7 linked regions of the Homo sapiens genome follow. The protein of the gene in region 1 purifies or fractionates together with the protein of each later gene. This does not show direct contact. Each region holds a gene or a part of one and is shown in the gene's direction. Other genes may lie near its edges.

The links.
Region 2: the proteins of MND1 (region 1) and RTF2 purify together in Homo sapiens (affinity purification with mass spectrometry; one large-scale study listed by BioGRID and IntAct). This does not show direct contact.
Region 3: the proteins of MND1 (region 1) and NAA25 purify together in Homo sapiens (affinity purification with mass spectrometry; one large-scale study listed by BioGRID and IntAct). This does not show direct contact.
Region 4: the proteins of MND1 (region 1) and SRP54 purify together in Homo sapiens (affinity purification with mass spectrometry; one large-scale study listed by BioGRID and IntAct). This does not show direct contact.
Region 5: the proteins of MND1 (region 1) and PLCB3 purify together in Homo sapiens (affinity purification with mass spectrometry; one large-scale study listed by BioGRID and IntAct). This does not show direct contact.
Region 6: the proteins of MND1 (region 1) and DNAJC2 purify together in Homo sapiens (affinity purification with mass spectrometry; one large-scale study listed by BioGRID and IntAct). This does not show direct contact.
Region 7: the proteins of MND1 (region 1) and VRK1 purify together in Homo sapiens (affinity purification with mass spectrometry; one large-scale study listed by BioGRID and IntAct). This does not show direct contact.

The regions. Positions count from the first base shown.
Region 1 is NC_000004.12:153,358,188-153,361,687, forward strand, and holds part of MND1 (meiotic nuclear division protein 1 homolog), read left to right. Parts: intron 1-286; coding exon 287-435; intron 436-3,315; coding exon of another isoform or gene 3,316-3,420; exon of another isoform or gene 3,421-3,500. UniProt on the Homo sapiens protein: Required for proper homologous chromosome pairing and efficient cross-over and intragenic recombination during meiosis.
Region 2 is NC_000020.11:56,506,627-56,510,126, forward strand, and holds part of RTF2 (replication termination factor 2), read left to right. Parts: intron 1-3,500. UniProt on the Homo sapiens protein: Replication termination factor which is a component of the elongating replisome. Required for ATR pathway signaling upon DNA damage and has a positive activity during DNA replication.
Region 3 is NC_000012.12:112,046,284-112,049,783, reverse strand, and holds part of NAA25 (N-alpha-acetyltransferase 25, NatB auxiliary subunit), read left to right. Parts: intron 1-172; exon of another isoform or gene 173-301; intron 302-1,340; coding exon 1,341-1,492; intron 1,493-1,993; coding exon 1,994-2,119; intron 2,120-3,172; exon of another isoform or gene 3,173-3,500. UniProt on the Homo sapiens protein: Non-catalytic subunit of the NatB complex which catalyzes acetylation of the N-terminal methionine residues of peptides beginning with Met-Asp, Met-Glu, Met-Asn and Met-Gln. May play a role in normal cell-cycle progression.
Region 4 is NC_000014.9:34,981,725-34,985,791, forward strand, and holds the start of SRP54 (signal recognition particle subunit SRP54), read left to right. Parts: upstream 1-1,267; 5' UTR 1,268-1,491; intron 1,492-4,067. UniProt on the Homo sapiens protein: Component of the signal recognition particle (SRP) complex, a ribonucleoprotein complex that mediates the cotranslational targeting of secretory and membrane proteins to the endoplasmic reticulum (ER).
Region 5 is NC_000011.10:64,258,030-64,261,529, forward strand, and holds part of PLCB3 (1-phosphatidylinositol 4,5-bisphosphate phosphodiesterase beta-3), read left to right. Parts: intron 1-443; coding exon 444-684; intron 685-855; coding exon 856-940; intron 941-1,028; coding exon 1,029-1,215; intron 1,216-1,999; coding exon 2,000-2,205; intron 2,206-3,370; coding exon 3,371-3,467; intron 3,468-3,500. UniProt on the Homo sapiens protein: Catalyzes the production of the second messenger molecules diacylglycerol (DAG) and inositol 1,4,5-trisphosphate (IP3).
Region 6 is NC_000007.14:103,320,768-103,324,267, reverse strand, and holds part of DNAJC2 (dnaJ homolog subfamily C member 2), read left to right. Parts: intron 1-604; coding exon 605-670; intron 671-1,473; coding exon 1,474-1,565; intron 1,566-1,635; coding exon 1,636-1,757; intron 1,758-2,186; coding exon 2,187-2,336; intron 2,337-3,500. UniProt on the Homo sapiens protein: Acts both as a chaperone in the cytosol and as a chromatin regulator in the nucleus.
Region 7 is NC_000014.9:96,879,746-96,882,109, forward strand, and holds the end of VRK1 (serine/threonine-protein kinase VRK1), read left to right. Parts: intron 1-1,431; coding exon 1,432-1,463; 3' UTR 1,464-1,864; downstream 1,865-2,364. UniProt on the Homo sapiens protein: Serine/threonine kinase involved in the regulation of key cellular processes including the cell cycle, nuclear condensation, transcription regulation, and DNA damage response.

The DNA.
Region 1 (3,500 bases):
CTGCTAAGAGTTAGGATTAGAACTCAGGTCCTGTTCTTAATCCTGTATATTACTTGTTTTCCCCTAGGCTCCTGTATAAGTCATGCTTTGCTTAAGGATGGGGATACATTCTAAGAAATGTTTCCTTAGGCAGTTTCATTGTTGTGCATGTTGTTATTTTTAAGAGCTTATTAACTTTTTAACTCTTGATTTGTGATATGTTTTGCAAGTGTTTCCCCAGTTATTTGTCCTTTAATTTTATTTATGGTGTTTTTCTAACATAGAGTCTTTAAAAATTGTCTCTTAGCTGCTATGTCAGTAAAAGAAGTCCTTCAAAGCTTAGTTGATGATGGTATGGTTGACTGTGAGAGGATCGGAACTTCTAATTATTATTGGGCTTTTCCAAGTAAAGCTCTTCATGCAAGGAAACATAAGTTGGAGGTTCTGGAATCTCAGGTAAGCTGCCACAGTTAAAAAGAATAGAGTTGCTTTATAACGGAGAGTTGTTTTACTTCATCCTCTTTTTGTTTAGCAGTTTCTTTTGAATTTTTGATATGCATTATTTGACTGAAAGTCTAAAGATAATTAACATCTGTTTCTCCTAAACAATATGAGGAACTTAGAACGTTTTAATTTTCATCTTCCCATATGTCAAGATATTGTTTTTGTTGTTGCTGTTTTTATTGTTTTTTAATTTTCTCTTTATCAATAGATGGTTTTTTGGAAGCAGTTTTAGACTTACAGAAAAATATTGATGGAAAAGTACAGAGAGTTCCCAAACGTGCCCTTTCTCCCTCACCACGCACACAATTTTCCCTGTTATTGACATCCTATACTAGTGTAATATGTTTGTCACAATTGAGTCAATATTGATTTATTACTAACTAAATTCCGTAGCTTACATTAGGGTTCAGTCTTGGTGTTATACATTATGTGAGTTTTGACAAATGCATGATGACGTGTATCCACAATTATAGTATTGTACAGAATAGTTTCACTGCCCTAAAAATCCGCTGTTTCCTACTTGTTCATCCCTCTCTTCTCCCGAAACCGTAGCAACCACTGATCTTTTTACTGTCTCTATAGTTTTACCTTTTCCATATAGTTGGAATCATACAGTATGTAACCTTTTCAGATTGGCTTCCTTCCCTTAACAAAATGCATTTGAGGTTTCTCCATGTCTATTAATGGCTTGATGGCTCATTTCTTTTTATTGCTGAATAATATTTCGTTATATGAATATACCACAGTTTGTTTATCCATTGAGCTATTGAGGAACATCTGGGTCACATCCAAGTTTGGGCAGTTACAAATAAAGCTGCCATAAGCATTCATGTGTAGGTTTTGTGTACACATAAATTTTCAACACATTTAGTACCAAGGAGCGTGATTGCTGGATTGTATGGTAAGTTTATGTTTACTTTCTAGGAAACTGCCAAAGTATCTGTTTTTGCATTCCCAACTACAGTGGGTAAGAGTTACTATTGGTTCACATCACTGCCAGGATTTGGTGTTGTCAGTGTCTTGTATTTTAGCCATTCTAATAGATGTGTAGTGGTATCTCATTGTTGTTTTAAATTGCCATTCTCTAATGACATATGATTTGGAAGATCTTTTTTTTTTTTTTTTTTTTTTTGTGAGACGGAGTTTCACTTTTTTTGACCAGGCTGGAGTGCAATGGTGCGATCTCAGCTCACTGTAACTTCTGCCTCCCTGGTTCAAGTGATTCTCCTGCCTCAGCCTTCCAAGTAGCTGGGGTTACAGGTGCACACCACCACACCCAACTAATTTTGTATTTTTAGTAGAGACGGGGTTTCACCATGATGGCCAAGCTGGTCTTGAACTCCTGACCTCAGGTGATCCACCCACCTTGGCCTCCCAAAGTGCTGGGATTACAGGCATGAGCCACCACACCCAGCCCTGGAACATCTTTTTTTATGCTTATTTGTCATCTATGTAAAAGGAGGTGTTTAGATCTTTTGCCCATTTTTCAATTGGGTTTTTGTTTTCTCGTTATTGAGTTTTAAGAGTTCTTTGTATATTTTGGACACCAGTTCTTTATCAAATATGTGTTTTTCAAAGATTTCCTCTGAGTCTGTGACTTATCTTTTCATTATCTCAACAGCATCTTTCACAGAGCAGTTTTCAATTTTAATGAAGTCCAACTGGTCAATTTTTTTCTTTCCTGGGACATTCTTTTGGTGTTGTAACTAAATAGTCGTGGCCAAATCCAGGGGCATGTAGATTTTCTCCTATGTTACCTTCTAGGAGTTTTGTAGTTTTGCATTTTACACTTAGATTTATTATCCATTTTGAGTTAATTTTTGGGAAAGGTGTAAAGTGTGTGTCTAAATTCAATTTTTTGTACATACATGTCCAAAGTAACTGTATTTTAGTATAATTTACTTCTTTTCTGTATGTGTGTGTGTGTGTGTGTGTGTATATATATATACACATAAAAATACACACATATATACACAAAAATATATAAATATTTTTATATAAATAAATAAATAAATAAATACTATAAATATTTTTGTGTGTGTGTGAGACAGGGTCTTGCTTTGTGTGTATATGTATATACACATATATACACACATATACATATACACATATATACACATATATTCATATATACACATATATACATATATACACATATATATACACATGTATATATAACTACTAAAGTACCCAGGGTCTTGCTTTGTCACCCAGTCTGGAGTGTAGTGTCGCAAACATGGCTCACTGCAGCCTCGACCTCCCAGGCCCAAGCCATCCTCCCGCCTCAGCCTCCTGAGTAGCTGGGATTATAGGCACACCACCAAACTCTGCTAATTTTTGCACTTTTTTGTAGAGACAGGGTATTGCCATGTTGCCCAGGCTGGTCTTGAACTCCTGAACTCAAGTGATCCACCTACCTCAGCTTCCCAAAGTGCTGGTGGGTGAGCCACTGCGACCGGCCTGTAACCCTGTGCACTTTATGGATTTAAAAACACTTCAAGAAGGAATCCGTACTGAAGGACATCCTTTAGTAATTTGTTCAGCCAGAGTTTAAGAGTGGTAAACTCTCAATCTTTGTTTGAAAATGTCTAATTTATCATTGCTTCCCGAATATAGAATTCTTAGTTATTTTTCCTCAGCATTTTGAAAATATTACTTCATTGTCTTGTGGCATATGTTGCTAATGAGATGTTTTGCTATCATTCTGATTGTCTTGTTTTCCTTAGTAATCTCTCTTCTGTTTGCTTTTAAGATTTCCTTCAGTCTTTGATGTTATGTTTTGATGTTTTATCATGAATCCGAGTTTGCATGTTTTTATTTCCTCTTCTTTAGGACCCTGGCTGCTGCTTCCATGAAATAATTAAAGTCTCCTATTATAGAAAATTCTGGCTGGGCGCAGTGGCTCACGCCTGTAATCCCAGCACTTTGGGAGGCTGAGGCGGGCAGATCACGAGGTCAGGAGATCAAGACCATCCTGGCTAACACGGTGAAACCCTGTCCACTAAAAATACAAAAAA
Region 2 (3,500 bases), on another chromosome or scaffold:
CGTTTAACTTATGATAAGCATTTTCTACATTGCCCCAAACTCTAACCATATAATCTTCCTTTTTGGGAATGTATTATAATTTTTTTTTTTGAGAGAGAGAGTCTCGCTCTGTCGCCCAGGCTGGAGTGCAGTGGCACGATCTCGGCTCACTGCAAGCTCCGCCTCCCAGCTTCACGCCATTCTCCTGCCTCAGCCTCCCGATCAGCTGAGACTACAGGCGCCCACCACCATGCCCGACTAATTTTTTGTATTTTTAGTAGAGACGGGGTTTCACCATGTTAGCCAGGATGGTCTCGATCTCTTGACCTCGTGATCCGCCCGCCTCGGCCTTCCAAAGTACTGGGATTACAGGCGTGAGCCACCGCGCCTGGCCGTATTATGATTTTTTTAACCATTTCACCCATTCTTTGGACATCTGAGTTTCAAGCGATAAAAAGGATGAAGATACAGTTTTAAATGGATGTATAATTTCTACCGTACAATAGCAGTACTCAAGAAAAATGCATTAGCAGGAAGATATGGGTGATTTTCTGTTGGTATAATACATATTATTTACTAAAGAGGTGGGGAGCAGGTCCCTGTGGACCAGCTGTGACTTTGCGGCAGCCCCACTCCCCATCTCCGCAGTAGCCCCTACCCTTGTTTTCCCTCATCCTTCAGGGATGAACCACTGCACTCAGGTCTCTCGGGTCAAGCACCTACCCAGAACGAGTGATGGGGCCCCTAGCAGTTGGGAGGACTCTGCCCAGTCTCCAGGGGCAATTCCTACCAAGGTTCAAGCCATTGAGGCCCTTGAGGGTGTGGGTTTGGTGTTAATGGATCTTTTGAATTTTCGAGAGAAAGAGCAAGATTACTCAATTTCTAATGTGAGGGGTTCCTGACTTCTTATTGTCAGTGGCCAATTCAACTTTAAAAGTACAATAAGTCTGGGCACAACACAACACAACTGTATGCAGAATAAGGTCCATGTCCTCTGAACAGTCTGATCTAGAGGAAGGAGACCGCTTACCCCAACACTGTCGGAAGGAGGGGCAGCAAGGAGTGATAGAAAGAAGCAGCAGCAGAAACCCAGGAGGAGAGAAAAAGAAAGGTGGGGGCAGCACCCACAGGGAGCAGACGCTGGGTTCCTCCCCACCCCTGGGCCCTTTACGTCATAGCCACAGCTCCAGGCCCCACTGGGCCTTAACTACCACCTGGTTCTGTTCCTGCAGATTCTTTTTCATTCCAAGGAAGAGACCATCTTCCAGAGCCAAGGGAAAGCTCTACTCAGACCTCCCATAGCGTGAGACTTCCCAGGGAACCTCCTCTAGCAGAGCAGGCTGTCCCTCCTCCTGTAGGCCCAGCTCTCTACAGTGATGGCTAAAAACAAGCTCCTTTTCTTCAAGGGTTGTACCAGTTAAATGCTAGATTGGGCACGTGCTTCAGTCATTCATATAACTTCTCTATGGCACCACCCTCAGGGATTTGTGGGTCAAAAAGGTATCTTCAGTCACGAAAATTTACCAGACCCACCCTAGAAAAAAAGCTGATCTTAACCTGAAAATCACTGTTGGAGACAAGAACCACATTAAATAACCCAGCTAAGGCAGGGGCTGAGGAGAGTCAGCAAATGCTTGTTGGTATCTTCTGTGCATTTGGGAGATTCTGGAAAATCTTTGGCAACTTCAGGAAAAAAAAAGTACTTTTATGGCTTTTCTTGTGCTGATAATGTTTTCTACAAAAGAGATTCCGGGCATAGTATGTCTGTTATTGCTCTGGGCACAGTAGGTCTGTTAAAATTACTGTTCCAGTTGTTGAAAGAATTTTGTTATTATTTGGTTGCCTGCCTTTATGTTTTTCAAAGGCAGTGTCTTATGGAGTAACTAAATATTTTAGTTAATAACAGACCTTATCTGGCATACTTTTAAACATCTATGACTATAACATTTAATAGAGTTTTTCATAGATATTAGAAAGATAAATTTTGGTTGATCCACTCAATATGTGACTCTTTGAAGTCATGTTACCTACACTAATCAAGATAGTGTGGTGCTGGCATGAGAACGGGCATATACATCAATGGAATAAAATAGGGAGTCCGGAAATAAACCCTCACATGTATGGTCATTGATTTTTGACAAAAGGGCCAAGTCAATTCGATGGGGGAAAGAATAGTTTTTTCAACAAATAGTGTGGGGTAACTGGATATCCACATGCAGAAGAATGAATTTGGACCCTTACCTTACATTGAATGTAAAAATAAACTCAAAGTGATCACAGACCTAAATCTGTAAGTTTTAGTTACAAACCACTTAGGAGAAACGCAGGAGTAAATCACAATCTTGGGTTAGGCGATGACTTACTAAATATGACACCAAAAACGTAGCAGTAAGAGAGAAAATTGCTAAGTCCAATTTCATCAAAATAAAAAACTTTTGTAATTATCCAGTGTAAGATATTTTGTCATAACAGTCTTGGACTAAGACAGAACTTATATCCAGAATATGCTGTATAAAGACCTCTTAGAACGCAACATCAAAGAGACAAATAATACAATTAAGAAATGGACCAGGGATTTAAGCAGACATTTCTCCAGAGAAGGTATACAGATGGTCAGTTAGCACGTGAAAAGATGCTTAACATCTCTGGTCATTTGGGAAATGCAAATTAAAACCACAATGAGACAGCACTTCACTCCCATTAGGATGGTTATAACTAAAAGGAAAAATGGGCTGGTTGCAGTGGCTCACACCTGTAATCCCAGCACTTTGGGAGGCAGGTGGATCACCTGAGGTCGGGAGTTCAAGACCAGCCTGGCCAACATGGTTGAAATGCCATCTCTACTAAAAATACAAAAATTAGCTGGGCATGATGGCGGGGGCCTGTAATCCCAGCTACCCAGGAGGCTGAAGCAGGAGAATCGCTTGAACCCAGGAGGTGGAGGTTGCAGTGAGCCGAGATCATGCCACTGGACTGCAGCCTGGCGACAAAGCGAGATCCCATCTCAAAAAAAAAAAAAAAAGAAAAACGATGACAGGTGTTGGGAAGGATGTGGAGAAATGAGAATCCTCAGGCATTGCTGGTGGCAATGTAAAATGGTGCAGCCTCTTTGGAAGTTCATCATTTGAGGAGAGGCAGTTCCTCCAAAGGTTAAACATAAAGTTAACTTATGGCCAGTCATCCCAATCCTAGGTATCTACCCAACAGAAATGAAAACAACTGTCCACAAAAGACTTCCATGTGAATTTCTTAGTCTGAAAGTGGAAACAACTCTGTCAGCTGATTCATAGATGAAACTTTATTTGGCAATAAGAAGAAATGTAGTTCTGATCCATACTATAACATGGATAAATCTTTAAAACATTATGCTAAAATCCAGTCACAAAAAAAAAAAACATGTATATTGTATGATTTCATTTATAGAAATGTCCAGAAGAGGCAAATTTGTAGGATGGAAAGTAGATTAATGGTTGCCTAAGACTGAGGAAAGGGGAATGGAGTGAGTGCCAGTGGGTATGGGA
Region 3 (3,500 bases), on another chromosome or scaffold:
ATAGGCATATGTGTTTAGAGTATCCTGGCCTCCTCTTGATAGGGTGTATCACTGTCCTTTAATCAAGCTAGAAGGTATACTCGAGCTTTTTCAGGTAGTCCTTCTTGAAACCTGCAGGATCACAAGTAATCTTTTTAATTTTCTTGTGTCCGTCCGTCTTTAATTTCTCCAGATACTGCAGGCAAACAGCTCGCCGAGGTGTCCCATGGGGGTTTAAAAGCCGCATCGAATGCAGTTGAATTAGCGCCCGTGGCGCAATCCCGCGGCCTGAAATGAACCCTGCAAGGCTGTATATCAGAGGGTATGTTGTTGACTATTGGCCTATTTTCCTACTGGGCAAATTATTCAGACGTAATGGAGATGGGGGCAGAGCTGATTAACTGAGGCTGTGTAAAAAGACTGTTTTTTCTAGAAAGGATCTTTTTTGGGGGCAGACATCAGCTTTGAGCATAATAGTTTCCTTGGCCCAAAGGGGTAATCTCCTGTCTTCTGATCCTGATGGCATAGACCCACACCCATGAAATGTTCTTCCCTGAGATTTTCTTCTATTGTGCCAGAATTTCTGCTTAGAATTCTTTATCTTGCCTCTGTTCTGTAATGTTTGATCTCTGTATATGTATTAAGCTACAATTAAAGCACATGTGGTGAATGTTCCCTTCACATACTTGTTTAAGGAAATTTCCAGCAGAGGTCTTACGTAATGTAGATGGACAAGAAACTTGGTTCTTGAAGTCTTTGTCCTCAGAATAGATTATGACATGAATTTTGATAGGTCTTTTGTTTGGTGTCTTACTTCTATCCTGACGTAATGCTCATATGCCCTGTGTTTCTAATACAGTATTCAGAAATAAGCAAAACCAAGGAGCAGCCTGTCTTTTTCTGAAGGAGAGTGGTTTTTATTTGGGGGGGCGGGGGGCAGGTGGTTCTATTATTCTGGTGCTTTTGGAACCTTTGTATGAAACACAGTTTATCTTAGATGCAGAAAAACATGGAGTAACATCCCTTCCAGAATGGCACTAACCAAATTTTTGACTGATGTGGCAAAACAAAACCTCAGTTCCTATTGAATTGAAAGACATGACTGCCAAGAGAAGGCTTATGTGATGGTGGCAGAAGCTGGTTATTACAATTAGTAATATTAGTAAAGGAGACATTTGTCTAAAGTATAAGAAGGAAGAAAAACATTTTAAAAAGCTAATATTCTACTTGGTGACCAAGACCTTTAAAGATTAGATTTAAAACTTAATTTTAGTTTGAGTGTTTTGTTTTGGCTGGCAAGGTTTGCTTACATTGCCTGACTTGTGAACTATTTATACCAAGGTGATGTCTTTCCTTCTCAGACCTCAGAATATATTATTCAAGCTTACAAATATGGTGCATTTGAGAAGATCCCAGAGTTTATCGCTTTTAGGAACAGGCTGAATAATTCTCTTCATTTTGCACAAGTCCGTACTGAACGGATGCTGTTAGACCTTCTACTTGAAGCAAATATGTAAGTATTGCATGAGAGCTATAAAGGAACTAAGGGATTAGATCAGTTGTTAAGAGCCATTAATGGGCTCATGGGTGTTATTGGCAGGCTTAAGGTAAAATAGGGGGAAAAAAGGGAGAGAGACAGTGGGGAAACAGAACTTGGCACATGTCATGGGGAATGGTAGAGTACTGCCAGCAACATCTTGAGACCATTACAGAAGCCATTTAGGTCATGGTCATCAATGCCTGGTCCATATTGTGCTTACGAAGGTTCCGCCTCCCCTACAAATCAAGAGATTTCAGGAATTAATGCTGATCCCCTTTGTTTTGTGTGGGCTTCCAGAAGCCTTTTTCTTGCCATGTAGCAAGCCAGTTTGATCTGCGCTTGGTTCTATTTCACCTTATTATGAGCCCTTCCTTCCTCTTTCCCTTCCTGTCTAGTAAAACAGGAAGTCCTGATTAATAATATTTTCTGGCTATTTTACTATTAAAATAATATGTGGATTTTTCTCTATCACAGATCAACCAGTTTAGCAGAAAGTATAAAGTCAATGAACCTTAGGCCAGAAGAAGATGACATTCCATGGGAAGATTTGCGAGACAACAGAGACTTAAATGTTTTTTTCAGCTGGGATCCAAAAGACAGGTAACTGGAATTTAACCCCAAGCAATTTTTAAAGTTTTTGTTTGTTTTTTGTTTTTTTAAAGAGACCAAGATCATAGCTCACTGCAGCTTCGAACTCCTGGGTGAAGCAGTTTATTTTTAAAGAATTAGGTTGGGCTGGGCACGGTGGCTCAGGCCTGTAATTGCAGCACTTTGGGAGGCCGAGGCCGGTGGATCACTTGAGGTCTGGAGTTCGAGACCATCCTGGCCAACATGGTGAAACCCTATCTCTACTAAAAATACAAAAATTACCTGGGCGTGGTGGCGTGTGCCTGTAATCCCAGCTATTCGGGAAGCTGAGGCAGGAGAATTGTTTGAACCCAGGGAGCGGAGGTTGCAGTGAGCTGAGATCGCACCATTACACTCCAGCCTGGGCAACAAGAGCAAAACTCCATCTCCAAAAAAAAAAAAAAAAAAGAATTAGGATGAATCTAAAATTAAAAAAAACAAACTTCACTTTACACAAATATAAAATAACATGTGTTTGTTGTAGGGATCAGAAAATATAGGTAAGCCAAATGAAGAAAGTATAGCTCACCCCTATGCTGGGACTGCTGGTTAATCTAAAAGTTAGATCTACTTCACAGCATATATGAGAATTCCAGATCGATTAAAGACTGTATGCTAAATTCTAGATTCCTTAGAAATTCTAGAAGAAAATATAGAAAATATTTTTAAATAGGTGAGGAAAGCCTTTCCTAGTATTATACCAAATCTGGAAACATAAAGGATTTAACTTCTGTAAATAGAAATAATAAATTTGTTAAGTTCTAAAGGTTTGTAGTAAATTTCTTCATACAAGTATCCTTCATATATAGAGAGAACTCTTAATAAGTCAATAAGAAAATAAGAAATTGGGCAAAGAAACACATCTTACAGCAATAAAGATTTTGTTTCTAGCAAAAAAGATGAATACTTGTGGTCAGCAAGGCTGTGTGGTAAATACTTATTATGCATTTACACAGGGATAAATTTTATACAGTCTTCCTATAGGGAGTTGTAGTGATATGTATCAAGATTTAAAATGCCACATACCATTTAATTTGGCAGATCTGCTTCTAGGAAAGTAGAACCTAAGGAAATAAATGCAGAAACATGCTAAGAAGTGTATATGAGGTAGTTCTGAAAATTCTGTGATTTGTGGGTTGCCAAGGCCACATTCAGTGATTTAGGATTGTTGAGTCCCAGAAGGATTCACAGGGCTGAGCATATAGTTGCACTCAACGGCTAAGGTTTATTACAGTGAAAGGACACATGACAGAATCCGGAAGGGAAAAAGGAACAGGCACAGTCGGGAGAACTCAGACTTCCAGTGCTTTCTCCCTCCTCTGAGGGGAAACACTGAGTATGCTCCTTTCTCCAG
Region 4 (4,067 bases), on another chromosome or scaffold:
AAGGCTTGTCCGAAGTCTGCTGAAAACTCACAAACCACTCAGAACCAGGTTTCCCACACCCAATTAATTCCAAGTGGTACTGTATCCGATTACCCCCATTTTCCAAGAGATAGTTTATTTTTTCCCCTCTTTTCCCCTCCCCACTACACTTTCCACTTAGCCCTTTTTGAACTGCAAAATAACCTCTCAACTCCCCTCACCAGACCATTCTCTACAGAGCAAATTCATCTACGAGATCCAAGACGCAACTCCCACCGCCAGGCGGTCGCCTCAGAAGGGTAAGCAGAAAGCATGCCCACTTGGCCACTTTTACAACTTATTTCTGCTCAGAAATGCACCAACTCAACTACCCGGTAGATAAGGCACCAGCTAGCAGAGACCTCTTGCTCATTTCCTCTTGTACCTTATAAAATGCCCGCTTTTTTGCTCCAAAGACGAAGCGGGCTGGCTTCAGAAATAAAATCCCTCTTCTTGTATACTAGGGCTCGCTCTTGTTAATTGGTGTCTACGTGTGGCGAGCAACTAACTCTCTTTTCCGTTAGAGCACTCAAAGCCCTGGTCAATCTACCCCCCAAGACAGCAGAGACCAGCACAACGATCCCAAGGAAGGCTGTTGGCTTCACCCCGCTTAAGTCCTCAAAGTCAGCGCCTGCAGCATATCCTTGCCCCCACCACCTGCCTCTAGCTCTGGTCACTTACACTTACGGTTAGTTCGCATCCACTGTAACAGCGCCTGGCGGTCGGCAGGAGCCACAGTGCGAAGCGGCCGCAGCATCACTGCCTGCCTCGCAGTGGGAAATTTTACCTTGCTGGAGCAAGCCGCGCAGGCACTGGCTGGCATTGCGCATGCGCAAGCAGAGACCGCCCCACCCTCCGCGGAACAAGCCTCCGGTCTGCAAAGCCCTAAGCCCCGCCCCTCTACGGAGGTCTCACGTGCGCCTGGGGATCCCTGCCTTCAGTCACACCTCTATCTCTCATCTTTCCGCTCTTAGCTGGGAGTGCTCCGCCTAGTCACTTTTCTTAAGGTGGCTCGTCGAGGCCTGACTTCTTCCCCGAAATCACGTCCCTAGACAGCCTCCTATTTTACCACTAACTTTACTCCTGCAGTTATTCAGCGGTAGGAAACTGAAACCAAAAACCAGTGTAAGCAAGTAAACATCTAAACTGTTTCAGGAGCCGCGTAGAAGGAACGCGGCGGTGTGCCCCGGAAGCGGAAGTAGATTCTCCTATAGAAAGGCTGGACTACGCGGAGTGGTGACGTTTCCTCATTGGGCGGAAGGTTCGCTGGCACTCCGTTGGTCTTCCAGCTGGTGGGAGTTGACGACGTGGTGCTGGGCGTTGGGACCCTACTTTATCTAGTTCGGGAAGTTGGGTTGTGGGGTCATACCTGTCTGTCTGCTCCCAGCTTTCTTGGGTTTCTTCCGACGGCGTGGGGCCTCGCTAAGGAATTCCCGGCCCCTCAGGGCCACGGCTTTAGCGGTGTCTTTTGCGGTAAGTGTCTGCTTTTTCCCGCCCCAGACTACGGAGGGGGAGCGAGGGGCAGCCCCAGCGCTGCTCAGGAGGCGAGAGACTCCGGGGGAAGTCGGCCTCCGTGGCCACCGGCCATCGTTACCGAGACTGAGTTTCTGTGGCTCTTTATCTCGTCTTCCATGAGAAGTTTTATTAAAGATGCGCTGTGCCCCTTTTGAGTTGTCTTCCGATTTACCTGAGCCAAATAAGATGTAGGCAGTTGCAGGCCTGAGTCTTCGTTTTGCTTTCCTGAGCAAGAATTTAGATGAAGCTACTTCCCCGAAAATCCTTTTACTTGTACGAGACTTTTATTTTTCCTATGTGTTTGTAGTGCTTAACACAATGTCCTGCGTGTAGTAGACGTTCAATAAACGAATATGGAATATCAGTTGAATGCCAATGATGATTTAAGATAGACTGATAGCTCTCTCTGTACCATTTGACGCTGCTGACCATCCATTTCTTGAAACTTTCCCCTGCTGCCTTTCTTCATGCTATCCTCACCTGATTCTTTCACATGCTTAATTTAACAAAATATATACTTGTTCTTGGCTACAAGGATACAGAAATGAATAACACTAACTCTGCCATTGAGAAGCTAACGCACATAAATACACATTATATCAAGATGGGTAATGAGAAACACTAGTTGCATATAAAGAGCTGTAGAAAGCTGTGGGAGAGCTAAAGTGCTCCTTAGGTGCTTTGTGACCCTGAGCCAGTTTCTATTCCAATCTAGCCTCAATTTCCTCATCTACTTAATAGGCTTGTTTTGAGGAAGAAAGGAGATTAGGTAAGAGGTTTGGTTTGGTTTAGTGCCTAGAATACAGCAATCGTGGTGCCAAAGGGGAGGGAAATATTTCCCTCAAATCGCTTTTTCTCAGTTTTTTGATATGGCCAACTGGTATTTTCTACCTTAATATAGAGTACTATGCAAAAGCATCTTCAAGTCTTCCTTCCAGATTACTCCTCTGTCCCCATCTATTTGGAAATTCTGGACCTGCCACAGGATTACAGTAAGATAACCATAAATGTAGCTTTTTAAAAATTGATTTTCTCCTATGTGCCATGGAGAAAGGGAAAGGGAATTAGTAAAAGCTCCTATCTCTTTGGTTATTTTCAGTCTTGGTTAACGCCGTCCTTTTAGTTGGCCCTCAGTCATTGCTATAACCCAAATGGTCTTCCACAGGCTCTCCTCGAGGCTTCTCGCTTGCTTCCATGGCATTGTCCCTATATGCCAACCATGTCCAAACCTTATTCTTTTCATTTCCAAACCTTGTTCTTTTCCAAACCTTATTTGCTCTGTCGCCCAGACTGGAGTACCGAGGCACCATCTCGGCTCACTGCAACCTCCGCCTCCCAGGTTCAAGCAATTCTCCTGCCTCAGCCTTCCGAGTAGCTGGGATTACAGGTGCCTGCCACCACGCCCAGCTAATTTTTGTGTTTTTAGTAGAGATGGGGTTCCACCATGTTGGCCAGGTTGGTCTTGAACTCCTGACCTGAAGTGATCCGCCTGCTTCGGCCTCCCAAAGTGCTGGGATTACAGGTGTGAGCCACCATGCCCTGCCTAAACCTTATTCTTTAGCCTCCATCTCATGAGTTGATAGTTCTGTACTTTCCCCTAAAACTTGCAAACTCATTAGGTCCAAAACCAAATGCACTGTCTTCACCTTCCTTTTTTTTTTTTTTTTCACTATGACATATGTCATGCATACGAAAGTGTATAAAAGCAGTGATTGTCAGTGCGTTTTTGAGTTTTGACCTCTGGTTGAATTTTGTGATACAAGTAGGTTAAATTTTTAAAAGGATTATAAGGGCTGTGAGCAATGGCTCACGCCTGTAATCCCAATACTTTGGGAGGCTGAGGCTGGCAGATTGCTTTAGCTCAAGAGTTCGAGACCAGCTTGGGTAACATGGCGAAACTCCCTGTCTCAACAAAAGAGACAAAAATTAGCCAGGCTTAGTGGCGCCGCCTGTAGTCCCAGCTAGTTGGAGGGATAATGAAATGAACATCTATGTACACATCCTTCATAAAAAGTGAAACATTAAAAATAATACATTAAGTCCCTTTGACCTCTTCTCTATTAACTCCTCTGACTTTCAAACCACCTTCCCTTTTTGCCTTCCATTCATTGGTTAATGGCATCACTAGCCATCTGGTTATAAAAACTAGAGATATTGGAATCATTTTTGCCTCTTTTTTCCTTCACTTGCCATAACCATTTGGTCATTAGATTCTGCTTCATGAATTAGCCCTTAACCCTAGTTTCTTTTTCTCTAGTTCAAGGCCACATCTTGTCTCAACTAGCCTTATGGAGTATGGGTAGTGCATGTAGTGTCCTGGCTCTTCAGTTTTTTCCCTCCAATGTATTTGTTACACTGTATCTAAAGATGTTTCTAAGGTATAGAACAGATTTCTCATTCTGTTGTTTTCTTTGGGACATGTTATTAAATACTTAATATAGTGATTATGAACCCTTGCTGCACATCAATATAGCTAGTGAAAGTTTTCAAAACATAAATGTCTTGTTTTGCACTCCAGATTAAGAATTTAGATG
Region 5 (3,500 bases), on another chromosome or scaffold:
TGTAATCCCAGCTACTCGGGAGGCTGAGGCAGGAGAATCGCTTGAACCAGGGAGGCGGAGGTTGCAGTGAACCGAGGTTGTGCCACTGCACTCCAGCCTGGGTGACAGAGCGAGGTTCCGTCTCAAAAAAAAAAAAAAAAGAGATTGGATTGGAGGCAGGGAGGGCTGGAGTCTTCCACACAGGAGGTGGTGTGAGCTGTGCCAGGGCTGAGGTGGGTGGAGGGAGTGAGGAGAGGGAGGGATTGTTGAGGCAGTGGGGAGCTATAGTGAGTCTCAGGGATGACTCCCCCCAGCTCACGCTGGTGGGATGGACAGGTGGTGGGTATCCATCTGAGAGATGGAGAGCCCTCTGCAAATCCAGCATGTCCTGGTTCCAGGTGGGGCCGGGGTGGTGAGGAGCTGGGCTGGTGGGCGGCCTCGGTGACAGAGCCTCGCCGCCCCAGCGGGGCAGCTGGCTGGGACCTCGTCGGTGGAGATGTACCGCCAGGCACTACTATGGGGCTGCCGCTGCGTGGAGCTGGACGTGTGGAAGGGACGGCCGCCTGAGGAGGAACCCTTCATTACCCACGGCTTCACCATGACCACAGAGGTGCCTCTGCGCGACGTGCTGGAGGCCATTGCCGAGACTGCCTTCAAGACCTCGCCCTACCCCGTCATCCTCTCCTTCGAGAACCATGTGGACTCGTGAGTGAGCCCCTGGCATGAAACCCCATGGACCGGGGGACAGTCTTCCAGCTTCAGTGCTGTTGGACTGCTCAGGGACCTCCAACCCTGCGAACGGCCACTGACATGTCCCGTAGACCTCAGCTTCCTCTCTGGGGGAGGGATCTCTGACCTCTGACCTCGGTTCCGCAGGGCAAAGCAACAGGCAAAGATGGCTGAGTACTGCCGCTCCATCTTTGGAGACGCGCTACTCATCGAGCCTCTGGACAAGTACCCGGTACGGGAGCTCGGAGCGAGGGGGGTGGCATGGGGGCCAGGGTGCTGCGGACCCGGTCCAGGGCCCTGACTCGTCCATGCCTGCCCAGCTGGCCCCAGGCGTTCCCCTGCCCAGCCCCCAGGACCTGATGGGCCGTATCCTGGTGAAGAACAAGAAGCGGCACCGACCCAGCGCAGGTGGCCCAGACAGCGCCGGGCGCAAGCGGCCCCTGGAGCAGAGCAATTCTGCCCTGAGCGAGAGCTCCGCGGCCACCGAGCCCTCCTCCCCGCAGCTGGGTAGGCCCCAGCCCGGCCCGCCACCCTGACTTGACCCTAGCCTCTGGCCTCATGCTCCAGGCGCCGTGACACTTCATCCCAGACCCCCAGCCCACCCTCCTGCCTCGCTGTGCGCCTGTTCCCACAACCGGCCTGTCTCCTCACCACCTGTCGGCTGGTGTGGGGCCTCTGACCCCTGACCTCAGGTGCACGTCTCACCCAGCTGCACCCCAACTCCTGACTCCCAACCTCAGCCTCTCACCTCTCAGAGCCTTCCCACAACCCGGTGATGGCTCTGAAGGCTGACCTCTGACCTCAGTAAACCACATCCCACACTGGGTGTGACCTCAGACCCCTAAGCCCGCATTGAGTTCACCTGCCCAGTTGGTTATCATTTCAGCTGACCTCTGACCTCTCACCCCTGACTGTTCACCTCACTATGCCCCCTCCTTAGACATGGCTCTGACTTACCCCTGACCTGTAACCTCTCTATGTCATCCCTTACCCCGCTATTAGGGCTGTGGTATGCTACTTCCTGACTTCTCACCCCACTGAACCACCCTATCTGCCTCCCTGCTGAATATCACTGCAGACCTTTACCTTTGACCTATGACCCCTCTCAACCCATACTGGGTTAATACCATCTGACCTCGACCTCTTGGCCTCTCCCCAAGCCACACTGCCCTGAGAGTACCCCTTGAATTCCCCACTGAGTCACCTCGGCACACACTGGGAAAAACCCCTCCAGACTTCCTAAGCAGCTGTGTGGTCCTGACCCCTCACCCTGTGGCCCTGTCCTCTGCAGGGTCTCCCAGCTCTGACAGCTGCCCAGGCCTGAGCAATGGGGAGGAGGTAGGGCTTGAGAAGCCCAGCCTGGAGCCTCAGAAGTCTCTGGGTGACGAGGGCCTGAACCGAGGCCCCTATGTTCTTGGACCTGCTGACCGTGAGGATGAGGAGGAAGATGAGGAAGAGGAGGAACAGACAGACCCCAAAAAGCCAACTACAGATGAGGTCAGGCCCACAGGGTGGGCAGGTCGGGGAGGTAGCATCTATTTACCTCCCAGGGGGCTGGGTCTGACCATCAACAAGACTGACATCACCCCTGCCTCCTGGGGCTCAGTGTGGGTGTGAGTGAAGGTGGGAGGAGGGCTCTTCAGTCATCAGGCATGGAAACAAGCATACAGTTCTGCTGGTGATGTGGCCTGGGAGGTGCGAGTTAGGGTACAGAACTGGCAGAGGATAGGGAGTCTACCCTGGGCAGGGAGGTGGGGCAGGGAGACCTCAGGAAGGGGGACAGCATGTACAAAGGTCCTGGGGCAGGGCCAGGGGGTGCAGGAGCGGGGAGCATTGTCATGGGGAGCATTGAGTAGCTGTGAGGAATGGTACAGAAAAAATCAGTCTGAGCTGGGCGTGGTGGCTCACACCTGTGATCCCAGCTACTCGGGAGGCTGAGGCATGAGAATCCCTTGAACCTGGGAGGTGGAGGTTGCAGTGAGCTGAGATTGCACCATTGCACTCCAACGTGGGCTAAAAAGGGAGACACTATCTCAAAAAAAAAAAAAAAAAAAAAAGACATCATTGCTATAAAGACAATTACTGGAGCAATTAGTGAAATTTAAAGATGGACTACATATTAGATAATATGTTAATGTTTTGTTTCCTGAATTTAATTATTGTATTGGAGTTATAGAAGAGAATGTCCATATATGCTGAAGTATTTATGGGTAAAGGGTCATGATGTCTATAATTTACTCCCAAATGATTCAGTAAAAGTAATGATAATTATAACACCTATATGGGCCAGGCGAGGTGGCTCATGCCTGTAATCCCAGCACTTTGGGAGGCTGAGGTGGGCGAGTCACCTGAGGTTGGGAGGTTCCAGACCAGCCTGGCCAACATGGTGAAACCCCATCTCTACTAAAAATACATAAATTAGCCGGGCAAGGTGGCGGGCGCCTGTAATCCCAGCTACTTGGGAGGCTGAGGCAGGAAAATTGCTTGAGCTGGGTGGTGTCCAGGGCGCATCAGTGAGACCCCGGGGAGAAGACTGTCGGCACCACCAGCAGTGTGTATATAGTGCTGGGAAGAGGGTCAGCACCTCCTTCATGGGGGGCAGGTGAGGGAATGGCCAGCTGTGGCGGGAATGGCACTGCTGACCCTGGGTTGGGGCCCACAGGGCACAGCCAGCAGCGAGGTGAATGCCACTGAGGAGATGTCCACGCTTGTCAACTACATCGAACCTGTCAAGTTCAAGTCCTTTGAGGCTGCTCGAAGTGAGTGGGGGTGGGTGGCAGGCATGGGAGCTT
Region 6 (3,500 bases), on another chromosome or scaffold:
ATTGGGGAGTCATTTGAATAAAAATAAGTACATTTTTATTTAGTTACTTCCTACTAAAAGTACTTGAGTTCATGAGGAAGGAGACAGTGCTATTTGTCTCTGTAACTAATTCACTAATTTTTAATATGCGCAATAGTTAGTGGCCATTTTATATGTGCTACATTTTCTCATCAAATGTCTAGTAAATACAAAAACATAAAATCACATAGAACAAAAATAACAAGATTTAGTTCTATCAGTTGTAATTGCTTTTACCTTCAGAGGATACAAACTGGAGATGAGATAACCACTACTAGGGTTACCTTCAGACTTGACAGACTAGCGAAATTGAAGGCAAGGAAAACTTAAAAATAGGTCTTGGTCAAGCGAAAAACCTAACAAAGAAGAGATAGCAGGGCGGTGTGGTTTTGATTATGGAGTGATATGTGCATTTTAGATTTTCATACCAAATGCAATGTCCTTAAAAAAGGAGAAAGACTTGACCTTAGTTCAATACTAGAAGGGAAGGAAAGGTATCCATTAAAACAAATTCATTCACTTGCATTAAAAAGAATTTTTTTTCATTTATTCTGTCTTGATCATGTATTATTTCTGTCTATATTAGGTATAATTTTGATTCTTGGAGAGAATTTTCTTATTTAGATGAAGAAGAAAAAGAAAAAGCAGAATGGTATGTATGCAAATCATTAATAATGGAAGGTATTTATTTGGTTCTCTGGTATTTGTGATGATGTAAAAATTGTCACGTAAATTTTCTTTCATATTTTCTCTTTGTACATCTTTTTTAAACAATTTTTTAATATTTTGAAATCCTTTCTCACAAGTTAAACTAGGTGGGCCCAGATCAATAATTGGTTAGGATATGCTTAAGAAATTGCCAAGGAATATAATGTCAGATAGCTCAGTTCAGCAAAATCTTTTTCTTCTGGTTGCTTAACCTAGGTTTTATTAATTTTTTTTTTGTATGTGTGCAGAAATGCTTTTGACATGAATGTGCAAAAAATAACCAAAATTAATATTAAATAGAACCACTGTTTAGGCCGGGCGTGCTGGCTCATTCCTGTAATCCTAGCACTTTGGGAGGCTGAGGCGGGCAGATCACCTGAGGTCAGGAGTGCGAGACCAGCCTGGCCAACATGGCGAAACCCTGTCTCTACTAAAAATAGAAAAAGTAGCCAGGCATGGTGACAGGCACCTGTAATTCCAGCTACTCCGGAGGCTGAGGCAGGAGACTCACTTGAACCTGGGAGGCAGAGGTTGCAATGAGCCAAAATCACGCCATTGCACTCCAGCCTGGGCGACAAGAGCAAAAGTCTGTCTCAAAAAAAAAAAAATCATTGTTTAATGTTAGTAATGACACAGCATTTTAACCTCTAGGATGTTATGTACATATAAATATTTTATAAAATATTGCATTTTCCAGTCATAGCATCTATAAGCAGTAGTTTGTTTCCAATATTTTCTATTTTATAGTCGTGATGAGAGGAGATGGATTGAAAAGCAGAACAGAGCAACAAGAGCACAAAGAAAAAAAGAAGAAATGAACAGAATAAGAACATTAGTTGGTAAGTAGAATTGATTTAAGTCCCCTAAATGTTAGAAATTCAAAATGAGATTAACTTTTTCTTTTGCTAGACAATGCATACAGCTGTGATCCAAGGATAAAAAAGTTCAAGGAAGAAGAAAAAGCCAAGAAAGAAGCAGAAAAGAAAGCAAAAGCAGAAGCTAAACGGAAGGAGCAAGAAGCTAAAGAAAAAGTAAGACAACATTTAATGAAGGTGGACTTTAAATGTTTATGAAATCTTTAATCTTCACTTTAATCTTCACATCTTTTTTTAAAAAAAACTATAATTCGAAAGCAGAGAATTGGGTGCTACTGTGAATGAATCATGACCAGTTGGTATAATTGAGAGATCTTCCTTACCAGCACGTTTTTATTGAGCAAAAAATTGTGTCATAAGTTCCTTTAATATTATGCTTATTTCTAATATGTCAATTTTACATTTTCTAATAAATGTTTATAGATCTTTACCAGCTGTCTTTCCGAGTTCATCCTTCAGTTTTCAATAAGTTTATGTTGCCTTTTTTCCTAATATAATTTATTAAAAGTTTAAATTTTTAAAATTATAAAACATTTAGGAATTTTACTGTACCTATTAAAATGATTTTACTCCCTTTTTTTAAAGCAAAGACAAGCTGAATTAGAAGCTGCTCGGTTAGCTAAGGAGAAAGAAGAGGAGGAAGTCAGACAGCAAGCATTGCTGGCAAAGAAGGAAAAAGATATCCAGAAAAAAGCCATTAAGAAGGAAAGGCAAAAACTTCGAAACTCATGCAAGGTATATCAGACTGAACAAACACTAGGCACAAGTAAATCAAGTTGCTTATTAAGCAAAAATACTTCTTTTTGTTTGTTTGTTTTTTAGATGGGGTCTCGCTCTGTCGCCCAGGCTGGAGTGCAGTGGCGCGATCTCAGTTCACCGCAATTTCCGCCTCCGGGTTCGAGCGATTCTCCTGCCTCAGCCTCCCGAGTAGCTGGGATTACAGGCGTGTGCCACCACGCCTGGCTAATTTTTTGTATTTTTAGTAGAGACAGGGTTTCGCCATGTTGGCAAAGCTGGTCTTGTACTCCTGACCTCAAGTGATCTCCCCGCCTTGGCCTCCCAAAGTGCTGGGACTACAGGCATGAGCCACTGCACCCAGCCAAAATATTTCTTGAAAAAAAAAAATTATTTTTATTTATTTATTTATTTGAGATGGAGTCTCGCACTGTCACCTGGTCTGGAGTGCAATGGCACGATTTTGGCTCACTGCAACCCCCGCCTCCTGGGTTCAAGCAACTCTCCTGCCTCAGCCTCCTGAGTAGATGGGATTACAGGTGCCTGCCACCACGCCTGGCTAATTTTTTGTATTTTTAGTTGAGACAGAGTTTCACTGTGTTGGCCAGGCTGGTCTTGAACTCCTGACCTCATGATCCACCCATCTCAGCCTTCCAAAGTGTTGGGATTACAGGCATGAGCCACCTGTGCCCAGCCAAAAAAACTTTTTCTAATTAAGTTTTTGTTATTGTTGTTGTTGAGGCAGGGTCTCAGTCACTCAGGCTGGAGTGCAGTGGCGCCATCTCGGCTCACTGCAACCTTCACCTCCCAAGTTCAAGCCATTCTCATGCCTTGGCCACCCAAGTAGCTGGGATTACAGGTGCATACCACCACACCCAGCTAATTTTTGTATTTTTAGTAGAGACGGGGTTTCACCATGTTGGCCAGGCTGGTCTCAAACTCCTGGCCTCAAGTGATCCCCCTGCCTTGGACTCCCAAAGTGCTAGGATTATAGGCATGAGCCACTGCACCTGGCCAAGCATAAATGTATTTCTTTTCTTTACTATGCAAATGTAACTAAACAAGACAGAGTCTCCATCTCAAAAAAAAAAAAAAAAAAAAGACATGCTGAGATAACTGAAGATATGAATATAGACACAGTTTCAGAATATATATATATATATA
Region 7 (2,364 bases), on another chromosome or scaffold:
TGGTGAAAGTCTAAGTCCTACTAAAATACAAAAATTACCTGGGCGTGGTGACAGGCACCTGTAATCTCAGCTACTCTGGAGGCTGAGGCAGGAGAATCACTTGAACCCAGGAGGCGGAGGTTGCCTGAGCCAAGATCGTGTCACTGCACTCTAGCCTGGCAACAAAGCGAGACTCCCTCTCAAAAAAAAAAATAATAATAATAAAAATAAAATTTCTTGAAATAAAAACCTAAAAATCTACTGTGGGATATTTTTAATAGATGGCCGTGTTACAGAAATTTAAGAAAAAAACTCAAATTTTAGAATCAATCATAGTACAGTATATAGGGTATGTATTATGAGTGGCAGAAAAAAGGATATTCATATAAGCTTGAAATTTGCTTTCATTGAACTGTATGATTGAATAGAAACTATAACTTGGAAAAATTAAAAATGCTAGTTTTGAAACTGACCTTCATGTTAAGTAACTAAAACCCATGATCAGAAAACCTTTAGATACACATGGTAGAATTTTGTTCCACATTCAAAGAATGTTTCGTACTTTTCAGAAAAGAAGTATTGATCTTTTGTTTTTTTTCGTGCAGTCATTGATTAATTATGAGCACCATGCTGTCCCTGACTCTGGTGCCCCTGCTCTTTCCTGGCAGAGCGTAGCATGCGGCAGTGGGAAAGAAATGGCCCTGCTTCTTTCACCAGCACTAGGCAGCCGTGATCAGGCTAACTGCTGTACCCAGAGGTGGAGTAGGAGTAGTAGGTGGGGTGAAATGTCTTGGTGAGGCAGAATTCCCATGCCCCCAGCAGAGAGTCATTGATTTATTCCAAACCAGAATAGTTAGATAGGTACTGTCATAAAGGACTTAGACCAGTATCACATATGATCCTTTTCCAGGAGGCTACTCATTTGGGACCTGTATAATTCCTAGCGGAAAAGACTTTCCATTTCAGTATATCCCAGTGCTCTCCTGCCTCAAGGGTGTAGCTAATAGTCTTTAAAAAGCAACTTATTGCTTTGCTTTTCATAACATGTGTGACCTCATCGCTTCCACCTTAGGAGTGAATGCTTATCTATATTGCTAAGGTTTATATTTGGAGATAATGTTTTAAATTTTACAACAAATTTAAATTTTGGAGAGAAATATTTCAGTATTAGTAAAAATTAGATACGTTTTATCAGTCAGTATTTTTATATGGCTTAAGAGAAGGTAGGTTTTGTCAGCATATTTTTTGACATATTAAAAAATGACCCAATTTTCTAAGATTTTCAGAGTATTAGCAATCATACCTTTGTATGTCAGTTTTATCTTTGCAAATCACGAGAGTCGATTTGATTTTAAAATGTTAATAACTATATTTAGGGATATTTATATTTCTGTTCTTTTGCTTTTGTAAATTATTGACTAGTGATTTCAGTTTCTTTGATTTTTCTTCAAGGTTCAAGAACCAGAAAGAGAGTCCAGAAGTAATTCAGATGCTGTGAACCAGATTTCCTTTTCTTTGTTTTCTTTTGACTTTTTTCTCCTTTTCTATTTGAACTGTTTTATTTTCCTGTGAGTCTTGCGAGGTGGAAGTAATGATTAAATACTCATGTGTTCAGAAAACATAAACTTTTTTTATAAAAATATTTTGTACAATTCATTAAAGGCTAATTTATGAAATTTGAAAATCTTCAGGTTATACTCCTTAAGTTATCCCAAAGCCGTGTGTTTGTGATGTTTTGGAGTACATATATATGAAAATTATTATGACACGCACTTTTCTAATCATTGTACATTTCTCAGAGTGGATAAAAATGTTTGACAAAGTCCTCACTTTTAAGGAAATGCAAAGCTTAAAATAAAACTCTCTTTTGTTTGATGCAAACACACAGTATGTTGTGGCTGTAAGGTTTGGTTTGTATTGATTTTGTTCTGTTCCCAAAATCTTTTATTAAACACCTGCTGTATGAGACAGGAGGTACAAAGACAGGAAAGGAATATGAAATAAAAAGTGGAGGAAGCGTATCCATGAGAGAGAAAATCTACATATATGAAAGATTACATAAGAATTATGTCAGTATGCAAGCCGTATGACAAGAAAACAAGTGACAGATGATCAAATGGTGGTGTGATTAAAGATTGTGTAAAGACTGGCTTCATCTACGGAAGTCCTATGAACTAGATATTAATAGATAGAGCCTATTGTTCATTCACAGAAGTTTATTTTTCTTAAAAGTTTCACTTTCATAGCATGTAATATTTATACAGTAAACCAAGCACTTCAGAGTTTCAGTGATCAGAAAGTTTAAGATCTGAAATGTTTTTAGTTGCCTTGGGAACAGAAGCTTGTAATTTTAACACATTTATGAACAATTTCATGATTCATTCC